4 linked regions of the Homo sapiens genome follow. The protein of the gene in region 1 purifies or fractionates together with the protein of each later gene. This does not show direct contact. Each region holds a gene or a part of one and is shown in the gene's direction. Other genes may lie near its edges.

Region 1 (5,141 bases):
GATCCCTTCCTCTGTCTTCGAAGCCAGCAATGGTGGTCGAGTCCTTCTCGTGTTTTGAATATCTCTTGCCTCTTTTTCTGTTGTATCTCTGACCCCTGTTGGCAAAGGTTCCCTGATTTTAAGGATTCCTGTTCTAAGATTGGGTCCACCCAGCTGCAAATCCTTTTTGCCATGTAAGTTAACATATATATTTAATTTCTGGGGATTAGGACATGGACATCTTTGGGAGGGGCTGGTGGCTCAGCCTACCTTCCCAGAGATCAGGAGTTCTCTTCTCCAAATCTTACAGAATCCTGCTTCTATTAGGAAGAAGGGAAGAATGGCTGCCATAGGTGTTATTATTCTTAAAACAATAAAGATGAAGACACTGAAGTTCAGGGAGTTTAAACAGGCAGGGCTGGTTGTTTTTTATTACATCGTTATGAGTATATTAAAACTCCAGTGTAGGAGGAAGACTGATAAACTCAAAAGGCTGACATTTGCCTTTGAGTTTTGTCGTCTGTGTGGTGCAGAGAAGGTGGTGAGAATGTCAAAGCTATACCGGCATCGCCACTCCCAACAATGAGATGGGGCCTGAATTATCCCCTCTTCTGGGTACCAGATTTTATGATTTGCCTTAATTTTACATTTGACAGGTCTGGTTTTTACATTTTAAGGCTACTAAGTCAGAGTGTGGAGATGTAAAGTGATTTTCAACCTGGAAATTGAGTGAGGAAAAGTGGAAAATTTTCTCTAGGAATCTGTTGCAGAGTCCCGTGTTTGTGGTATGTGTTTGTGTGTGTGTGAGAGAGAGTGTGTGCATGTTTATGTCCTCGTGTTTAAGGCATGAGAGTGTGTGTGTGTGTGTGTGCGTGTGTGTGAGAGAGAGAGAGAGGGGATATATAGGATATTTCTTATTGCTCGATGGATTGATATAGGAGAAGATAGGTTATCAGTGATTTTCAGTAGGAAGTGTACATTCCCTATGAGGGTATTTGATGTCAGTTGTCATGATTCTCTGAGGGTCATGATTTTTTAAAAAATGTCATATTAATAGGGCATAGATGAACTGTTCTAATGTTTCTTTTCTGTTTTTTTTTTTTTAGATGAGGTCTCTCTATGTCACCCAGGCTAGAGTATAGTGGCACAGTCATAGTCATAGCTCACTGCATCCTCCAACTCTTGGGCTCAAACAGTTCTCCTGCCTTAGCCTCCCAGGTAGCACAGGCACACACCACCTGGCTAATTTTTTTCTTTTTCATAGAGGTGGGGTCTTGCTATGTTGCCCAGGCTGGTCTTGAACTCCTGGCCTCGAGCAATCCTCCTGCCTCTGCCTCCCAAAGTTGCTAGGATTACAGGCGTGAGCCAGCACGCCTGGCCTGTTCTAATGTTTCTGAATGTTGGCAAGGCACATTTACCTGAAGACTGTGTCAGCGATAAGTGTGTGTTTGATTCAGAGTATGATTGCCAGTACTTGAGCATTTTGTTTTTAAATGTTTGTTAAATTTAGGGTTGAAAAATAGCATCTTGCTGTTAAAAATGCTTTGATTACCTGTGAGATCTTACATATCTTTGATATGATCGTTATTGATATAGTTCCTAATATTGATCCTTTATTTTTAAAAGGGAGATTCTACAGTGGTTGGAACGAGTAGGCTTCGTGACTTATATGACAAATTTGAGGAGGAGTTGGGGAGCAGGCAAGAAAAGGCCAAAGCTGCTCGGCCTCCGTGGGAACCTCCAAAGACGAAGCTCGATGAAGATTTAGGTGAGTCAGAGTCACTAACTAGCCTGAGACCCTTGCGATTATAGCTTCATTCCTAAATTTTGGGGAAATACCCTTGAGAGTCCCACATTGAGATTTCTTCTTTTTCATTTTATTTTTCTTAATTACAGTCAGTAAGATACATAGCAGTAGAACTTCCTTCTTTTTGATCGTATTTTTCCTTAGTTCATTTGGCAGAATACAGCAGCGATCTCATTTGCAAGGCATGCTAACAAGGGTGCCCCTTGGAGAGTTGTCCAGTCAGAAGAGTTCAGCATCTTTCCGAGAGCAGGAGCCCATGCCCCCTGCCTCTCATGAGGACAGGTGTCCTTCCTTGGCCCTCTCCTTTGCCAGGTGCGCCTGGTTTGATGAGGGAAACAGCGACTGTACCCCAGCTCTGTTTGAAGGTTTCTCTCCACTTGTGTAGACAGTTTGCATAGCTTTTTCATAAGGTGGTCTATTTTTTCATGTGTATGTTCTGAGGTTCCAAGTAGGTTGTGAGATCTTTGAGAATGGAAATTGCTTTTTATCACTTTGTATCCTTAGCCCCTAACAGAATGCCATGCACAGATGAGACATTCAGTGTGCATTTAGCTACATGTTCTCTCTAGCTCTTATCTGCCCACCTCCATTACATCCCACACGCTGAGAGGCAGTTATCCATACTGGGCAAAGACACCTGAGTTGGGAGTTGGATGGCTTGGGTTTGAATCCCTGCTCTACCACCTACTTGATATGTGACCTTGGGCCACAGGTTAATCTCCTTAGATTTTTCCCATTTGTAAAATAGGGATGACAGTAGACAGTAGCATCTATCTCATGCAGTACATGTAAATACAACTCCATGTTGGATTTCATTATGCTACTACTATGTTAATCTCTTATAGGATTAATTTATTTTAAAAATTAATTATTTTTCTTTTTGTGGAGATGGAATCTCACTATGTAGGATTAATCTAACTTCTAGGTCTGTTTTTTTTTTTTTTCAAATTGTGGTAAAATATAAGTAATACAAAATTTACCATCTTAACTATTTTTAAGCGTACAGTTCAATAGGGTTCAACATGACCTTGTTTGCAACCAGTCTCCAGAACTGTTTTCCTTTTATAAAACTGAAACTCTGGACCTGTTAAGGAATAACTCCCCAGACCCCAGTTCCCCCGTTCCCTTATTACTACTATGCTACTTTCTTCCTCTATGAATTTGACTCTCAGGCATCTCATATATGTGGAATCATGTAGTATTTGTCTTTTTGTGACTGGCATATTTCAGTTAGCATAAGTCTGTGTCTGTTTTTATTCAGTCACTTTAAGGACTAACACCTTCTCTTGCTGTTATTGAGGGAAAAGAAATGTCAAGTCTTTGGTCTTGCATTCCCAGCCTTCGCTGTGGCATTCCCAGCACTCCCAGCCCCTAACCTCCCAGTGTTTTTCCGTGTGGCCCGCGCTCTAGCTAGTCCACTGTGTTCTTAGCTCCACGCTTTTGCCTACGATGCTCCCTCTTCATTCCTTTCTTCTTTTCTCCTCCTTATCATGCTTCTCCCATCCTGTTGCAGTGCCTGGGTCACATGTGCTCCTTCTTTGAAATTATCACCAGCCTTTCTGGATCCCAGTGAAACTGCCCTTTTATGGATCATTACATAGCTTAAGTGTTAAACTACGTACTACTACTATGGTTTTTCATTTTATCTGACATTGCTCATCAAGTCTTACTTTCTCTCTAAAGATCTTTATTTTCTTTGCTTCCCCAACTAGATTGTGACTTAGCATTATGGGCTATATTTTTTTTTTATGGTGTTGCTTAGTAGAGTATTTGGTGTAGAGTAGGCCTTTAAGTATTTTCTAGAAGAATAAAGAACTCTTCTTACCTTTAGAGGTTTAGGTCATTTGGAAGCCTCCACAAAAACCAGTTTGTCAGCCGGGTGCGGTGGCTCATGCCTATAATCCCAGCACTTTAGGAGGCCGAGACGGGTGTTTCACCTGAGGTCAGGAGTTCGAGACCAGCCTGGTCAACATGGCAAAATCCTGTCTCTACTAAAAACACAAAAAATAGCTGGGTGTGGTGGCAGGCGCCTGTAATCCCAGCTACTCGGGAGGCTAAGGCAGGAGAATCACTTGAACTCGGGAGGTGGAGTTTGCAGTGAGCTGAGATCGCGCACTGCACTCCAGCCTGGGTGACAGAGCGAGACTCCAACTCAGGGAAAAAAAAAAACCAGTTTGTTAATTCCATCAATTTCTGTATTTTTCTCCCAACCCCTGTTAGAGAGTTCCAGTGAATCCGAGTGTGAGTCTGATGAGGACAGCACCTGTTCTAGCAGCTCAGACTCTGAAGTTTTTGACGTTATTGCAGAAATCAAACGCAAAAAGGCCCACCCTGACCGACTTCATGATGAACTTTGGTACAACGATCCAGGCCAGGTGCGTGTTTTTATGCCCTTGCTGTGAAGGTTGCAAACCCAGACATAACGGTTATTGCTCTGGGCTCAGAAGATACATGTTGCCTAGTATTGAAACTGAATTTTACTGTCAGGGTTTTGTCCTTCAGAGCTATTTCTTTTCAGCTTCAGGTTAGTTCCAAAGCATAAGCACCAGAGCAGCTGTCCCTTGAATCATTTTTGATGATGTTTGTAAATTCCATGTTGGGGAGAGGAGTAATGGCCCTGCCTCATTAAATTGCAGTAGATGGAAGGAGACACATGGTAGGATGAGGAGAGAGAACTTGGAGGTCTTTTTAGAAGTAGTTCACCTGGAAGGTATCTTGCTGCAAAATAGTAAATAAGTCCTATAAGATTTCTTTTTTTTAGTTGGTAACAGTCACAAGTTCTCTTCCTTGTTAAGCATGTTTGAGCTAAAAACATAATAGGTGGACATAATTATTTTTATTTTTAATTACTGTCTTAATATGAAGTAATACATAATAAAATTAGCATTGTTAAAAAAGATTTGTGTCACACAGATATATAATACATACAAAAATTATATCTTTAATGCATGTAAAGTTAGGAAGCTAAGGCATATCTGTAAAAAGATAATTTAAAATTTATATTTTGTGAGTAAATTTATAACATTCTATATTAATTAAAATGCTTTTCTCCTGGTTCTTGTTAGATGACAGCTATCCATCTTTTTTTTATAGAACGTCTGGCAGAAATGTATTTTGTGTGTTCCTTTTACTCTTTGGAATTGAGCAGAAATGTTTGCAGAACTGCCAATGCATTTTAAAACTTGGTTTTCTTTTTAAACAGCTTTGTTGAGTTATAATTTACATATGATACAATTGTACTTCAAATTTATAATCCAGCATTTTTTAGTATATTCATGGGGTTGCACAACTATCCCTACAATTGAATTTTAGAACATTTTTTGTCCCCCGTAAAATAAACTTCCTCCATATATGG
Region 2 (5,141 bases), on another chromosome or scaffold:
AAGCAGGCCACTGATAAGTGGCAGATGCCTGATCCCCCTAGGTAGTGGGGAGTGTGAGACTGGGTTATAAGAAGCCTTCACTATCTTTTAGGACCCTCCCTTGAGGAGGCCAGTCTACCACAATTGCTTTAGAATGAAGGTCTTTTGGTTGCTCACAAGACTATAATGGTAATTTTTGGCTCATCATTTTTGTGTGTGTGGGTTTTATCTTAATTCATTGTTAAAGAGATAGTGGGTTTCCCCTGAGCTAGTTTCCTATCATCTGTGCCTATGTTTGCTTCACTGAGCTATGGGGAAAGAGTCACTGGCTGCTTTGTTTACAAAAAGAAAGGACAGGCTGAGCCTTAAGGAGTAGGAAGGAGTTCCTTGGCCTACCCTTCATCTCCACAAGTGAAAAGCCCCTTAGCGTAGCAGAAAATTCCAGGTTGAAGGTCTCTTTGGAGAAGGCAGAAGGAGTGACCTAGACTCCTGTTCACACATCTAATCACTTTCCGTCAAGATTTAAATTCCAGGTTGTCATCAATGGCCGAGAGTTTCCCCCAGCTGAAGCTGGAAGCAAGAAAGTGGCCAAGCAGGATGCAGCTATGAAAGCCATGACAATTCTGCTAGAGGAAGCCAAAGCCAAGGACAGTGGAAAATCAGAAGAATCATCCCACTATTCCACAGAGAAAGAATCAGAGAAGGTAGGTGTCCTCCTGCCATCTGGGAGGATCAGTTCCCTGTCAGTGTCTGGATTGTAACTGACTCCCTTGAGGCAATCCCAGCCTAAACAACTGACACCATCTCGGAGTCAGCTTCCCACTCTTCCCTCTACCCTATCTCGCCAGCCCACCTTTCCTCCTCTCATACCCAGCTCCTCTGTCTGCTCCTGTCCCAACATAATTGGATTTACAGAATTTCGGACTTGAAAGAGACCTGAAAGTTTATTGAGGCCAATCTCCTCTCTTGGAAGATGCGGAATGAGAGCTCCAGCAGCCCCTTTAACTTTGGGAAGCCAACCCCTTGACAGGTGGTGGGAATAAAGTCCCCCATCCCCATCCCTTCTTCTGTGATGGACTAACCAGTGTTTTCTTAGTTTTGTTTTCTTCTTGTCTCTCATTTTCTCTAGACTGCAGAGTCCCAGACCCCCACCCCTTCAGCCACATCCTTCTTTTCTGGGAAGAGCCCCGTCACCACACTGCTTGAGTGTATGCACAAATTGGGGAACTCCTGCGAATTCCGTCTCCTGTCCAAAGAAGGCCCTGCCCATGAACCCAAGTATGTCCTACGTGTCCTCTGTCCAGCTGAGGTTTTCTCAGAAAGAAAAAGAGACACATTTTCTTCCTTGCCTCCTCAGGGATGGCAGATTGACCAATTTCTCCTGTTTCAAAATGGGGAAAGGAGGGCTCTGAGGTCCTGGTTGCTGCTTGTGAGGCAGACAATTAGGGATTAGGAATTCAAAGGGAATTCCTGGCCCACCCTCTATCTCCTCTATAAGCACTAGGGAGGTTCACGGCTTGGAGGTCACTCACTGTTGGTGGGACAGAAAGGTACAGGACCTGAGAAGCTCTCTGCCTGTGGGTCTATAGACTCACATGTTCAAGAGAAGTGTTCCTGGAAGAGGTGAAACTAGGTTGATGCTTAAATGTTGAAAGGGGTCAGCCAGGCTAAGAGACACTGGCTGTTCAAGGCAGAAGTGACTGCATGAGATGTGACTGCACAGAGGTGATGTGTTCAAGGAAATTACCAGTAGTGGAGGATGGCAGCCTGGCAGAGGCTAGGTCAGGCTCCTCAGTCAAAACCATTTTAATCCTTCTACGTGCTTCATCTCCTGTCAGGTTCCAATACTGTGTTGCAGTGGGAGCCCAAACTTTCCCCAGTGTGAGTGCTCCCAGCAAGAAAGTGGCAAAGCAGATGGCCGCAGAGGAAGCCATGAAGGCCCTGCATGGGGAGGCGACCAACTCCATGGCTTCTGATAACCAGGTAGGGCGTTTTCCTACTCAAAAGATACAGGTCATTTTTAGCAACTGAGTGGTTTAAGATTGCCAGTGACTCCCTCAACATTTCCTGAAGTGTTTATGGCTCCTCTGTTTGATGGATTCTCCTTTAGCCTGAAGGTATGATCTCAGAGTCACTTGATAACTTGGAATCCATGATGCCCAACAAGGTCAGGAAGATTGGCGAGCTCGTGAGATACCTGAACACCAACCCTGTGGGTGGCCTTTTGGAGTACGCCCGCTCCCATGGCTTTGCTGCTGAATTCAAGTTGGTCGACCAGTCCGGACCTCCTCACGAGCCCAAGTGAGTGTCCTAGTCCTGGCTAATGCATGTGTCACCAGTTGGGGATGGTCTGTAACCCAGGGAAAACAAGGGTGTGCTTTAGCTGTGTAGGACAGAAGGGGCGAGTTGAGGGAAACAAGTCCAGCCCTGTCTCCACGGCCTCTTAGAAGACAATAGACCTGCCAAGAGTGAATGCGTTCACTCTTCCAGTAAGCATGATCCTTTTTAATTTTTTGACTAGTTTTAATTTTTAAAGAAATGTATAGGTACATTAAAAAATCATTCAGGCCAGACATGGTGGCTCACGCCTGTAATCCCAGCACTTTGGGAAGTTGAGGCAGGTAGATTACCTGAGGTCGGGAGTTCAAGACCAGCCGGACCATATGAGGAAACCCTGTCTCTACTAAAAATACAAAAATTAGCTGGGCGTGGCAGCGGGTGCCTGTAATCCCAGCTACTCGGGAGGCAGACAGGAGAATTGATTGAAGCTGGGAGGCGGAGGTTGCAGTGAGCTGAGATCGCACCACTGCACTCCAGCCTGAGCAACAGAGCAAGACTCCATCTTGAAAAAAATCATTCAAGCTGATTGAAAAAGTAGTCATTTCAATGAAAAGTCTCATTTCCGTCTCAGACTTCTAGTTTCCCTCCCTAGACCCATATATTACTATAGCCCTGCATTAGCAACTGGGATGCGGTCTGAGAAGCATGGTTTTGTTGTTGTGAGAACATCAGTGTGTATTTACATAAACCTAGATGGCATGGGCTCCTACACACGTACAGGCTGTATGGTATGGCCGGTTGCTCCTAGGCTACAAACCTGTACAGCATGTAACTGTAGTGAATACTGTGGGCAGCTGCAACACACTGGTAAGTATTGGTGTCTATCTAAACAGCAAAAAGATACAGTAAAAAGACAGCATAAAGGATTAAAAAAATACTACACCTGTATAGGGCGCCTGCCATGAATGGAGCTTGCAGGACTAGAAGTTGCTGTGGGTGAGTCAGCCAGTGAGTGGAGAATGAATATGAGGGCCTAGGACATGACTGTACACTAATGTAGGCTTTGTAAACACTGTTCACTTAGGCTAACTACATTTATTTAAAATATTTTTCTTTAATAAATTAACCTTAGCTTACTGTAACTTTTTTACTTTATTTTTACTTTATTTTTTACTTTATTAACTTTTTTATTTTTTGTTCCTTTTGTAATAATACTTAGCTTAAAACACAAACATGTTGTACTGCTATCCAAAAATATTTCCTTTGTTTATATCCTTAATTCTATAGTCTTTTTTCTGTTTGTAAATTTTTTTATTTTTTTAACTTTTTAAACTTTTTTGTTGAAAGCTAAGATGAAAATACATTAGCTGTTAGCCTAGGCCTACACAGGGTCAGGATCCTCAGTATCACTGTCTTCCACCTCCACGTCTTGTCCCACTGTAAGGTGTTCAGGGGCAATAACATGCATGGGGGCCGTCATCTCCTATGGTAACAGTGCTTTCTGGAATACCTGCCTGAGGCTTTTTTTAGTTACTTATTTTTCTAGAAGTAGAAGGAGTATACGCTGAAATAATGATAAAAATATAGTAAACACATAAGGAGCGTGTAGCCTAGATCCCTCGCATTCACAGTTCACAGTCGAGTTCACACTCCTACAAGAATCTCATGCTGCTGCTGATCCCACAGGAGGCGGAGCTCGGACCAGAATGCTTTCTTGCTCGCCACTCACCTCTTCCTGTGTGCCCAGGTTCCTAACAGGTTACAGAGCCCTGCACTTGGTGATAAGAATTTTTCAGCTCCATCATAATCTTACGGGGCCCCTGTCATATGTGTGATTTATCATTGAACAAAACACTGTTATGCAGTACATGACTATACCAGTTTCTTGAGTCCTTCTAGAAATTGCTGTGCATAACTAGCACATTTTCCCTTTTGTCTTTTTAAACAAGTATATCTTCTGTTTTATACGTTGACTCCTTTACTTACCAGACTTCTTGCATAGCTGCATAGTATTTCATTGAATAGAAGCTGACAAATTCAGTTTCTCAGAAGTAAACATTTAATAGGGACTTAGGAACAGAAATGATGTCTTGGGTGGCTGCAAGATGGTGGATCCCTGCACTTACCCTCCAGAAAGTATGCTTTCTATAGAGGCTTTTTTGGTTAAACATGCAGCTGGTCACACATTATACTTTCTTGTGAAACTTATGAGCACTAGCTGGTGGGGAGGCTTGGTAGACATCTTTGTGTGGAATTATTTATGCTACCCAACACTTTGGGATGCGGGAGTCAGATATTGGTGGTCATAGTGGTTTTGCATCAAGATGGCATCACTCTTGCCATGCAACCGGCATGTTTTCTTAATCTCTAAGGTCTATCACAAAGTGGAAAAGCAAGGTGTAAAGTGAGGGGAGAGGTGAAGATTGTCTGTATATGTCTAGAATATTTTCTTGAAGGATCGAAAAAACTGGCAACTGTGTTTGCTTCTGGGGAAGGAGGGACACTTTTATTGTACACTCTTAACTGTTTGAATTTTCACATGTTTGGCATCCAACTTGTCCATTTTAAAGTCATTAAGGAAAAAAGCTTATAAAAATGCTATCTTGTTACTTTAAATTTGTCTCTCCTTAATAGAAGTAATGTCAGCCGGGCGCAGTGGCTTACGCCTATAATCCCAGCACTTTGGGAGGCCGAGGTGGGTGGATCATTTGAGCTCAGTAATTTGAGACCAGCCTGGCCAACATGGTAAAACCCCATCTCTACTAAAAATACAAAAAATAGCTGAGCATGGTGGTATGCCCCTGTATGCCAGCTACTCCGGAGGCTGAGCAGGAGAATTACTTGAACCCAGGAGGCGGAAGTTGCAGTGACCTGAGATTGTG
Region 3 (5,141 bases), on another chromosome or scaffold:
GTCCTGGGAGCTGAGACTGTGCTCAATCAAATGAGGGTAAGTTGCTGTTGGGGATTTGTCGGATACAGTATTTGGAGACTCTTATAACCTATCTTTAATGGAGAATTAGTCTCAAGTGTCTGAGAACAAGGGTCCCAGAAATAGAGAAATGAGATTTTTCTCTATGCGTTTTAGGTGGATTGATTTTTTTTTTCTTTGCTGTGTTGTCAAATTTCTGAAAGCAGATGAGATCTGAAATACATCCAGGTTAAGACTAGATAGAAATGACTACTGCAGGAAATGGACAACATTCACAGCACTGAAGAATGGGAATAGAGTGATATCATAGATTCAGTATTTGAAGAGGTGACATTTACCAATAACTCTTGGGCTTTAACTTGCAATATAACTTGTGTTTTGTTTTTTTTTTTCACTTCCTCTCAAACTAATCAGATGAAGGGTCTCGAGGAGCCAGAGATGGACCCCAAAAGCCGAGACCTTTTAGTTCAGCAAGCCTCCCAGTGCCTTAGTAAGCTGGTCCAGATTGCTTCCCGGACAAAGAGGAACTTTATTCTTGATCAGGTATTAATCTGATAAAATTGCCTAGAGTCAAGGTGGGATGTGTATATAAAGAGAGACTGAATTAAGGAGCAGAGTCAGCTTACCTAATTATGACCATCTGGTTGTGTGTTATGGTTGCAATGTTTTTTGAACTCAGAGGTACCCCTAATTAGTGTTTTTACTTGAAAATATATGGACCCAGGCTATAAAACATGTAATAAAGACAATGGAAAGAGTTGGAACTCATTTGAATTCCTGGCTCCACCACATTCTGGTTTGTGATCTTGGATAAGTCCCTTATCCTTTCTGAACCTCAGTTTCCCTGATGAGCAAAACAGGATAATACCTGTCATGTAGTTTGAAAAGTTAAAGAAGATCATGTGTATTGACCCTTTATCTCGTGTCTAAGTTGTCAAAGATACTGAGTCTTTTTTTTTTTTTTTTTTTTTTTTGAGACCGAGTCTCGCTCTGTCGCCCAGGCTGGAGTGCAGTGGCGCTATCTCGGCTCACTGCAAGCTCAGCCTCGTAGGTTCATGCTATTTTCCTGCCTCAGCCTCCCGAGTAGCTGGGACTACAGGTGCCCGCCACCATGCCTGGCTAATTTTTTGTATTTTTAGTAGAGACAGGGTTTCATCGTGTTAGCCAGGATGCTCTTGATCTCCTGACCTCATGATCTACCTGCCTCAGCCTCCCAAAGTGCTGGGATAACAGGATTATAGGCGTGAGCTGTCACGCCCGGCCTTTTTTTTTTTTTTTTTTTTTTTTTTTTGAGATGGAATCTTGCTCAGCCGCCACCCAGGCTGGAGTACAGTGGCGTGATCTCAGCCCACTGCAACCACCATCTCCTGGGTTCAAGCGATTCTTCCGTCTCAGCCTCCCAAATAGCTGGGATTACAGCACCCACCATCATGCCGAGTTAATTTTTGTATTTTAGTATAGATGAGGTTTCACCATGTTGGCCAGGCTGGTCTTGAACTCCTGACCTGAGATGATCTGCCCACCTCGGCCTCCCAAAGTGCTAGGATTACAGGCGTGAGCCACCGTGCCCAGCTGATACTGATTCTTTTGGTTAAATCTGAGTGATAATTTTCTTCCTAAACATCAGTTATTCCTCCTGTTCTTAGTGTAATGTGTACAATTCTGGCCAACGGCGGAAGCTATTGCTGTTCAAGACCTTCTCTCGGAAAGTGGTGGTGGTTGTCCCTAATGAGGAAGATTGGAAGAAGAGGCTGGAGTTGAGGAAGGAAGTAGAGGGAGATGATGTGCCTGAATCTATAATGCTGGAGATGAAAGGTGGGTGTCTTAGTCCATTTTCTGCTGCTATAACAGAATACCATAGACTTCATAATTTGTAAGTAATAGAGGTTTATTTCCCTCATTCTGGAGGCTAGGAAGTCCAAGAGCATAGCATTAGCATCTGGTGAGGTCCTTCTTGCTGCATCATTCCATGTCAGGAGGGCAAAAGGCAAGAGGGCACATGTGAGAGAACTTGCTTTTATAACAAAGCCACTTTCACAATAATGGCATTAATCTATTCATGAGGATGGAATCCTCATGACCAAATCACATTAAAAGTCCCACCCTCTCAATACTGCTCATTGGGGATTAAGTATTCAACACTTGTACTTTGGTGGGACATAACTCAAACCATAGCAGTGGGCTAAAATTGTACAAGTTAAAGAGATCTTATCCCTGGTCAGTGCACACCTTATTGAGGTCTCTTAGCAACTGGAGTGACACTCTACATCTAAAATGTAAATCTGAAGAGGAACTTAATGGTCGTGAGCACTTGTAGATAAATGAATGAACAGAGAGAAGCAATAATTTTGACTCATTGTTTTCTTGGTTTGTTTTGGTTTGGTTTTGAGACAGAGTCTCACCCTGTTGCCCAGCCTGGAGTGCAGTGGTGTGATCTCAGCTCACTGCAACGTCCACCTCCTGGGTTCAAGTGATCCTCTTGCTTCAGCCTCCCAAGTAGCTGAGATTACAAGCATGTGCCACCATGCCTAGCTAATTTTTGTATTTTTAGTAGAGATGGGGTTTCGCCATATTGCCCAGGCTGGTCTTGGAACTCCTGACTTCAGGTGATTTGCCCGCCTTGGTCTCCTAAAGTGCTTAGATTATAGGCATACGCCGCTGTGCCTAGCCGCCTTGGCTCGTTTTGAAAAAGATACAGAAAGGGAAATAGTGAGCCAGGCGCGGTGGCTGACGCCTGTAATCCCAGCACTTTGGGAGGTTGAGGTGGGTGGATTACAAGGTCAGGAGCTCACAACCAGCCTGGCCAAGATGGTGAAACCCTGTCTCTACTAAAAATACAAAAAAAATTAGTCGGGCATGGTGGTGGGCGCTTGTAATCACAGCTACTCGGGAGGCTGAGGCAGAGAATTGCTTGAACCTAGGTGGCAGAGTTTGCGGTGAGCTGGGATTGTGCCACTGCACTCCAGCCTGGACAACAGAGTGAGAAGACTCGGTCTCAAAAAAAAAAAAGTGACCGTAGGGTAATTTAAACTCAAAGGATCAAGGGAGAGGCTTCTGTGAATCAGTTATTTGTTAAGTAAATATTTCTGGTACATCTACTGTTTGTCTACATTTCTTATTCTGCTTTTTTTTTTTTTTTTTTTAAAGACAGAGTCTTGCCCTTGTCGCCCAGGTTGGAGTACAGTGGCGCGATCTCGGCTCACTGCAACCTCCGCCTCCCGGGTTCAAGCGATTCTCCTGCCTCAGCCTCTTGAGTAGCTGGGATTACAGGTGCCCGCCCAGCTAATTTTTGTACTTTTAGTAGAGACAGGGTTTCGCCATGTTGGTCAGGCTGGTCTCGAACTCCTGACCTCAGGTGATCTGCCCGCCTCGGCCTCCCAAAGTGCTGGGATTACAGGTGTGTGCCACTGCGCCTGGCCGCAGGGAGAGATTATTATGGTTCAGATTAAAATATGGCAGTTGGAGTGAATGATCTCATTGGTATAACTTGATTTCTGGTATCACGTTATGTTTGTGTTTTGTTTGTTAATTTGGCTGAAGTCTGTAATGCAATACATAAGACAGAGAGTAATGTCTACATAAGAAATATTAATATTTTGATTGATCCTCCTATTCCCTTAAAACGTGATTTTTTTTCCCATTGCTGCCTTTAGTTCCTGACATCCCACCGAGTCTAGCAACTGCTTGCTCTTCAAATACTGATAATCCCCAGGCATGGGAACTGGTTTGCATATCTATGAGCCAGATCCTCAGAGTTTACTGAGAATGAACTATGCCAGTCCATAACTCTTACTTAGGCACTCAGAGAAATGTAGCTCAGTTTTATAAAATTGAGGGCCAACTGGATTCATCTAAGAATCATGAGAGCCCCATTGAACTGAATTTCCACTGGGACTCAGCTTCTGAAGTTGACGTCCAGAGACTGGCAGATGTGCTGGCCTATCACGGACAGGTGGTAAATGAGAGCCCTTGTACTCTTGTCTTCTCTTCTCCTTGTATAGATGAGCAGATGCCTTTAGGCTTGGGTCAGTTTCTCATTGAGTCTCTCTTCTGTCAGCGAGGCCAGAGTGCAGTGGCACTCAGCCTCCCGAGTAGCTGGGATAACAGGCACCTGCCACCATGCCTGGCTAATTGTTGTATTTTTAGTAGAGACAGGGTTTCACCATGTTGGCCAGGCTGGTCTCGAACTCCTGACCTCAAGCAGTCCGCCTGCCTTGGCCTCCCAAAATGCTGGGATTACAGGCGTGAGCCACCATGCCCGGCCATCTCTGAGTCTCTTTTTAAAATGTTATTTCTTAGCATCTTATCTGACCAACACCAGAACTTTCTCAGTTACTTTTAGCCTCTGGTTACCTGCTTCTGTCCTGATGAGAAACTTTAACCCAGTTCACTCCTAATTTATTATAGATCACTTAAGAACTTGTAAATCTACATAGCCCTTTGCCTGGGTCTGTTACAATTTAGGGAAAACTTAGAGTAGAAAAAGTTAATGTCATTATTTAGATGCGAGTGGGTATAAACGTAGCACATTTTTGTGCAGTAATAGATGAGGCATAGAAAGTCATATGCTTCTTGTAGAGTTTTCATAATGAGTTCTTACCCATCTATGCACTTTTCAGGCCCACAAGCTTCTCTCTTACTCTTATAGCCAACTTCTCTTTGCCTGAAAAATGCGACTATATGGATGAGGTGACATATGGGGAGCTGGAGAAGGAGGAAGCTCAGCCCATTGTCACTAAGTACAAGGAGGAGGCAAGGAAGCTTCTGCCCCCCTCCGAGAAGCGGACAAATCGCCGAAACAACCGAAACAAGCGTAACCGGCAGAACCGAAGCCGGGGCCAAGGCTATGGTGAGTCTTGGGGACCTGCCAGCCCCCTACTTCAGTCCATTCTTTGTGCTTAGTACAGCAAGATGTGCAAGGGAAGGCCAAGGAAACCAAGTCAGGTCATTAACAATACGGAAGTGCCTTCTTCATGGAGCTTATTTCTTCCTGTGTTCTTTATCCCTGCCTTTTTCTTGTGCTTTTTCCATAATTCTTCAACAACAACAAAAATCCTCTTTTTTAAAAAAGAGTTACTTTTCACAAAAGTATTTGTTTCTTTGAAAAGCAATGCTTGGGCTTT
Region 4 (5,141 bases), on another chromosome or scaffold:
CATATTGTTTGTAGCCTGGGGAAGCAACTTCAGGAGCTCCTGAGAAAGAGCACCTCCCTTTTAAAAAAAATTTACAATTGTAGAATAATTCCAACCTGATCTTGATGTATTCTCCTTTTACTGGATTATATTTGGTAGTATTTTGTTTAGGATTATTGCATTTATATTCACGAGAAAGATTGACTTATAATTTCAGTTTCCTTCAGTACCCTTGTTGGGATTTGGTATCAAGGTTATGCTGGTTTCTTAAAACAAGGTGGAATGTATTCCTTCTTTTTCTACTCCCTAGAAGAGTTCCTACGAAATTTGTGTTTTCTTCCTTAAATGTTTGAAATAATTCTTTGGCAAAACCAGCTGGTACAGGGTTTTCCTTGTGAGAAGGAAAAATTTTAGAATTAATTTTATAGGTAGATGTAGGATTTTGAATATTTCTTCATGTGTCTATTTAGATAAAGCATTTTTCCCCGCTAGAGATTTGTTCAGGCCACCCAGACTTTCCAATTTGTAAGTTTAAAGTGGTTTGTAATCCTTATTATCTGCAAGATCTGTAGTGATGTTCCCTTTTAATAATTCTTGATATCAGTAATTCATATATTATCTCTTAATCAGTCTTGTTGGGGGTTTGTCAATTTTGTAAGTTCTTTTAAGGGACCAACTTTCGGCTTTACATTTTTTTCTACTTACATTTGTTTTCTATTGCATTAATTTCTACTTTTTTTTTTTTGCTTTTTTTTTGTTTGATTGAGATATATATATATATATATATATATTTTTTTTTTTCCAGGCACAGTCTCATTGTGTCTCCCAGGGTCAAGTCCTTAGATACTTGAACTGGATTTAACTCCCTCCTACCTTTTGTGTCATTGTTTTATATATTTCAGTTTAATTTATATTTATTTTTAAAAATAGAGACAGCGTCTTGCTGTATTGCCCCAGCTGGTCTTCAACTCCTGGCCTCAGGTGATCCTCCCCCCTTAGCCTCCCAAAACAATGGGATCCAGGCGTGAGCCACTACACGCTTTTAGCTGCATCTTACAAGTTTATGTACTTTAATTTTAGATATACTTTTGCAGTATCATAATTATTTTGTACAGTTAATGTTTATTTAGATTTATCCTCTTAGTTACCATTTTTGTTGCTCTTCATTCTTTATTGTTGTTTCATGTTTCTGCCGGGGATTATATTTCTTGTTTTTTTTTTTTCTTTTTTTCTTTTTTGAGACAGAGTCTCGCTCTGTTGCCCAGGCTGAAGTGCAGTGGCACGATCTTGGCGCACTGCAACCTCCATCTCCCATGTTTGAGCGATTTTCTTGCCTCAGCCTTCTGAGTAGCTGGGACTATAGGCATATGCCACCACATCCGGCTAATTGTTGTATTTTTAGTAGAGACTGGGTTTCACCATGTTGGCCAGGCTGGTCTCAAGCTCCTGACCTCAAGTGATCTGCCTGCTTCAGCCTCCAAAGTGCTGGGATTACAGATGTGAGCCACTGCGCCCAGCCTATATTTCTTTTCCCTGAAGAACTTTCTACGGTATTTCTTTGAGTTCATATCTGTGGATAATGAATTGTCATTTTTGTTTGCCTGAAAATTTTCTATTTTGCCTTTAGTTTTTGTTTTGTTTTGTTTTGTTTTGTTTTTTAAGATGGAGTCTCGCTCTGTCGCCGGTCTGGAGTGCAGTGATGTGATCTTGGCTCACTGCAACCACCGCCTCCCGGGTTCAAGCAATTCTCCTGCCTCAGCCGCCCGAGTAGCTGGAACTACAAGCACGTGCCACCACGCCCAGCTAATTTTTGTATTTTTAGTAGAGAAGGTGTTTCACCATGTTGGCCAGGATGGTCTCTATCTGTTGACCTGGTGATCTGCCCTCGTCAGCCTCCCAAAGTGCTGGGATTACAGGCGTGAGCCACCATGCCTGGCCTTTTTTTTTTTAAATGTGATGTTTCACCATGTTTGCCAGGCTGGGGTCAAACTCATTGGCTCAAGCAGCTGCCTGCCTCAGCCTCCCAAACTGCTGGGATTACAGGTGTGAGCCACTGTGCCCAATTTGCCTTCAGTTTTGAAGGATGATTTTGCTGGGTATAGAATACTGGGATCGTGGTCATTTCCTTGCACCATTTTGTAGCAGCGAATTCATTGTTTTTTTAGCTCGCTTCCTTTTTCTTGACAAGTCAGCTTTTGGTGTTATTGTTGTCCCATTTGAAGTAATACTTCTTTTTATTTTCCCCTCTGGTTGCTTTTTATTTTTATTTTTTGGAGAGGATATGACTTTTACTGAGTTTATCCACCAGAGTGGAAATAATGTTTGTGCAAAACCAAATGTTTGTTACTATAACTCTCCATCACAATTAAAATCCAAACAGTTTTTTGAAAACAGTCAACTCAATCAAAACCCACTACTTCAGAATCAATAGCTTCTTTGAAGCCACAGTAACAAATATGGTTAAGACTTGAATGTAGAAATTTGTTGGTTGGAAAGCTAATTAAACTTCCAACTTGCTCAAGTAGAATTACAGAAAGGCAGAATTGTGTTTTTCACAGAGATATAGTTCACTGGAATCAGCCACACTGGACAGCTGGTAGAGTGTTTAGGGTCCTGAGATAATAAGGAATCCAGGCAGCCTTTAGACAGTCTGCTGTTGTCCTTTCTTCCCAATTAGAGATTTGTGGATGTGTGGAATGACACCTTTACCAGCAATTGTAGACTTGAAGAGAGAGCCCAATTCTTTATCTCCACGAATGGCAAGTTGCAAGTAATGAGGGGTAGTATGCTTTACTGTGAAGTCTTTTGACGCATTTCTTGCCAGTTCAAGTACCTCTGCGGTGAGGTACTCCAGGATGGCTGTGCTATTCACAGCGGCAGTCGCGCCCACACGTCCAGGACTGATTGTCCTAGATTTCAGGTGTCAGTGAATACGGCCCACCAGGAACTGCAAATTGGCTCTCTTGTGAGTGGGAAGCTGCCTTTGTTGGCCTTTCTGGAGTCCTTCCCAGCCTTACTGCCAGCCATTTTCAATTCTGCTGAAGCTCAAACAGGCAAGGCAGAGAAAGGACTAATCAGACACACAGCAAGATCTCACCATCTACTCATTCCTCACACCAGGATTTGAAGCTGCCTCTGGTGGCTTGTAACATTTTCTTTGCTTCAGGCATTAGCAAAACTTGGTATTTGTTGTATTGGTGGCCTGGTTCCTAATCAATTTTGGAAGTTTTGGCTCTTCTCTCTATAAATATTCCTATTTTCCACTCATCTTCACTCAGAGGGCCTCCATTTTTGTGTACATTAGGCATTTTTTTTTTTTTTGAGATGGAGTTTCGCTATTGTTGCCCAAGTTGGAGTGCAATGGTGTGATATACATTAGGCTTTTATCATGTCCTATGTGTCTCTTGTGCTCCTTTCCGTATTTTCTAGACCTTTTCTGTGTATGTGTCTAGGTGTGTGTGTGTGTGTGTGTGTGTGTGTGTGTGTGTGTGTATTTAGTTTTTAGAGACTGGGTCTCTCTGTTGCCCAGGGTGGTCTTGAACTCTTGGGCTCAAGCAGTCTTCCTGCCTTGGCCTCCTAAACTGTTGGGACTACAGGCGTGAGCCACCGTGTCCGGCCTGTGTGTGTGTGGGGGATGTGTGTGTGTGTATATTTTTGGGACAGGGTCTCGCTCTGTTGCCCAGGCTGTAGTGTAGTGGTGCAGTCTCAGCTCACTGCAGCATCTGCCTTCTGGGCTCAAGCGATCCTCCCACCTCAGCTCCTGAGTAGCAGGGACTACAGGTGCGTGCCACCACACCTGGCTAATTTCTGTATTTTCAGTGGAGGTGGGGTTTTGCCATGTTGCACAGACTGGTCTCAAACTCCTGGACTTAAGTGATCCACTTGCCTCAGTCTCCGAAAGTGTTGGGATTACAGGCATGAGCTAGCATGTGTGTATATATGTGTGTATATATATATACGTACATACATATATATATATAAATATATATGTATATAAAAATTTTTAAGAGACAGGTGGCTGGGTGCAGTGGCTCACGCCTGTAATCCCAGCACTTTGGGAGGCCAAGGTGGGTGAATCACTTGAAGTCAGGAGTTCGAGACCAGCCTGGCCAACATGGTGAAACCCTGTCTCTACTAAAAATACAAAAAATAGCCGGGCATGGTGGCACATGCCTGTAATCCCAGCTACTTGGGAGGCTGAGGCAGGAGACTCACTTGAACCTGGGAGACGGAGGTTGCAGTGAGCCAAGATCACGCCATTGCACTCCAGCCTGGGTGGCAAGAGCGAAACTCCGTCTCGGGGAAAAAGAAAAAGACAGGCACCCTGTTGTTGCCGAGGCTGCAGTGCAGTGGCGCGCGTGATCACTGTTCACTGCAGCCTCAAACTCCAGGGCTCAAGCAATCCTTCTGCCTCAGCCTTCTGAGTAGCTGGGACTATAGGTATGTGCCACTGTGCCCAGCTAATTTTTAAATTTTTTGTAGAGGCAGGGTCTTGCTATTTTGCCCAAGCTGTTCTTAAACTCCTGACCTCAAGTGAGCCTCCTACCTTGACATGTCAAAGCACTGGGATTACAGGTGTGAGCTATTGTGCCCAAAATCTAAAGTCCAGATTTTTTTTACTGACCCATCTTCCACCTCACTCATCCCCTCTTCATTTGTGTCCAATCTGCTGTTTAGCCCATAGATTGAGTTCTTAATTTCAGTTATAATTTTCAGTTCTAGAGTCTGCTTAATTCCTTTTACTATTCTAGTTCTCTAGTGAAATTTTTTCCTTTTGTCAAGTATATTTTTGAATAGTTGACATTTGCATCTGATAACTCTATTATATGGGTCACCTCCGGATCCATTTCTGTTTTTCTTTTTTCTCTAGGTTCATTTGTTGATAACGCCCATTTTTGTTTTTTTAATTGAGTCAGACATTATGTATGAAAAACTGTAGAAAGCGCTGGGTGATGCTGTCTTCCTTCAGAAAGTTTCCCTCTGTCATCTGGCACATGCCCAGAGTAGGGACAGATCATCTCAGCTCAGTCAGGGCCTGGGTGACCAGAGGCTGGGATTCAGTCAGTAAGCGTCAGTTGAAGCTGCCTTCCCCCAACCTCCTGCTCCTGGTGTAACCATCCGGGGGTTCCATCTGAAACCCTGGAGTGTTTCCCAGGGCCCCT

The links. The genes of interacting proteins can lie anywhere in the genome.
Region 2: the proteins of DROSHA (region 1) and ADAR purify together in Homo sapiens (affinity purification with western blotting, with the first as the bait; one study listed by BioGRID). This does not show direct contact.
Region 3: the proteins of DROSHA (region 1) and HNRNPUL2 purify together in Homo sapiens (affinity purification with mass spectrometry, with the first as the bait; one large-scale study listed by BioGRID). This does not show direct contact.
Region 4: the proteins of DROSHA (region 1) and PPFIA1 purify together in Homo sapiens (affinity purification with mass spectrometry, with the first as the bait; one large-scale study listed by BioGRID). This does not show direct contact.

Annotation. Positions count from the first base shown.
Region 1 is NC_000005.10:31,507,641-31,512,781, reverse strand, and holds part of DROSHA (ribonuclease 3), read left to right. Parts: intron 1-1,605; coding exon 1,606-1,747; intron 1,748-4,006; coding exon 4,007-4,161; intron 4,162-5,141. UniProt on the Homo sapiens protein: Ribonuclease III double-stranded (ds) RNA-specific endoribonuclease that is involved in the initial step of microRNA (miRNA) biogenesis.
Region 2 is NC_000001.11:154,593,944-154,599,084, reverse strand, and holds part of ADAR (double-stranded RNA-specific adenosine deaminase), read left to right. Parts: intron 1-499; coding exon 500-683; intron 684-1,108; coding exon 1,109-1,257; intron 1,258-1,817; coding exon 1,818-1,962; intron 1,963-2,089; coding exon 2,090-2,280; intron 2,281-5,141. UniProt on the Homo sapiens protein: Catalyzes the hydrolytic deamination of adenosine to inosine in double-stranded RNA (dsRNA) referred to as A-to-I RNA editing.
Region 3 is NC_000011.10:62,716,715-62,721,855, reverse strand, and holds part of HNRNPUL2 (heterogeneous nuclear ribonucleoprotein U-like protein 2), read left to right. Parts: coding exon 1-36; intron 37-432; coding exon 433-561; intron 562-1,664; coding exon 1,665-1,833; intron 1,834-4,666; coding exon 4,667-4,867; intron 4,868-5,141.
Region 4 is NC_000011.10:70,276,292-70,281,432, forward strand, and holds part of PPFIA1 (liprin-alpha-1), read left to right. Parts: intron 1-2,323; exon of another isoform or gene 2,324-3,112; intron 3,113-5,141. UniProt on the Homo sapiens protein: May regulate the disassembly of focal adhesions. May localize receptor-like tyrosine phosphatases type 2A at specific sites on the plasma membrane, possibly regulating their interaction with the extracellular environment and their association with substrates.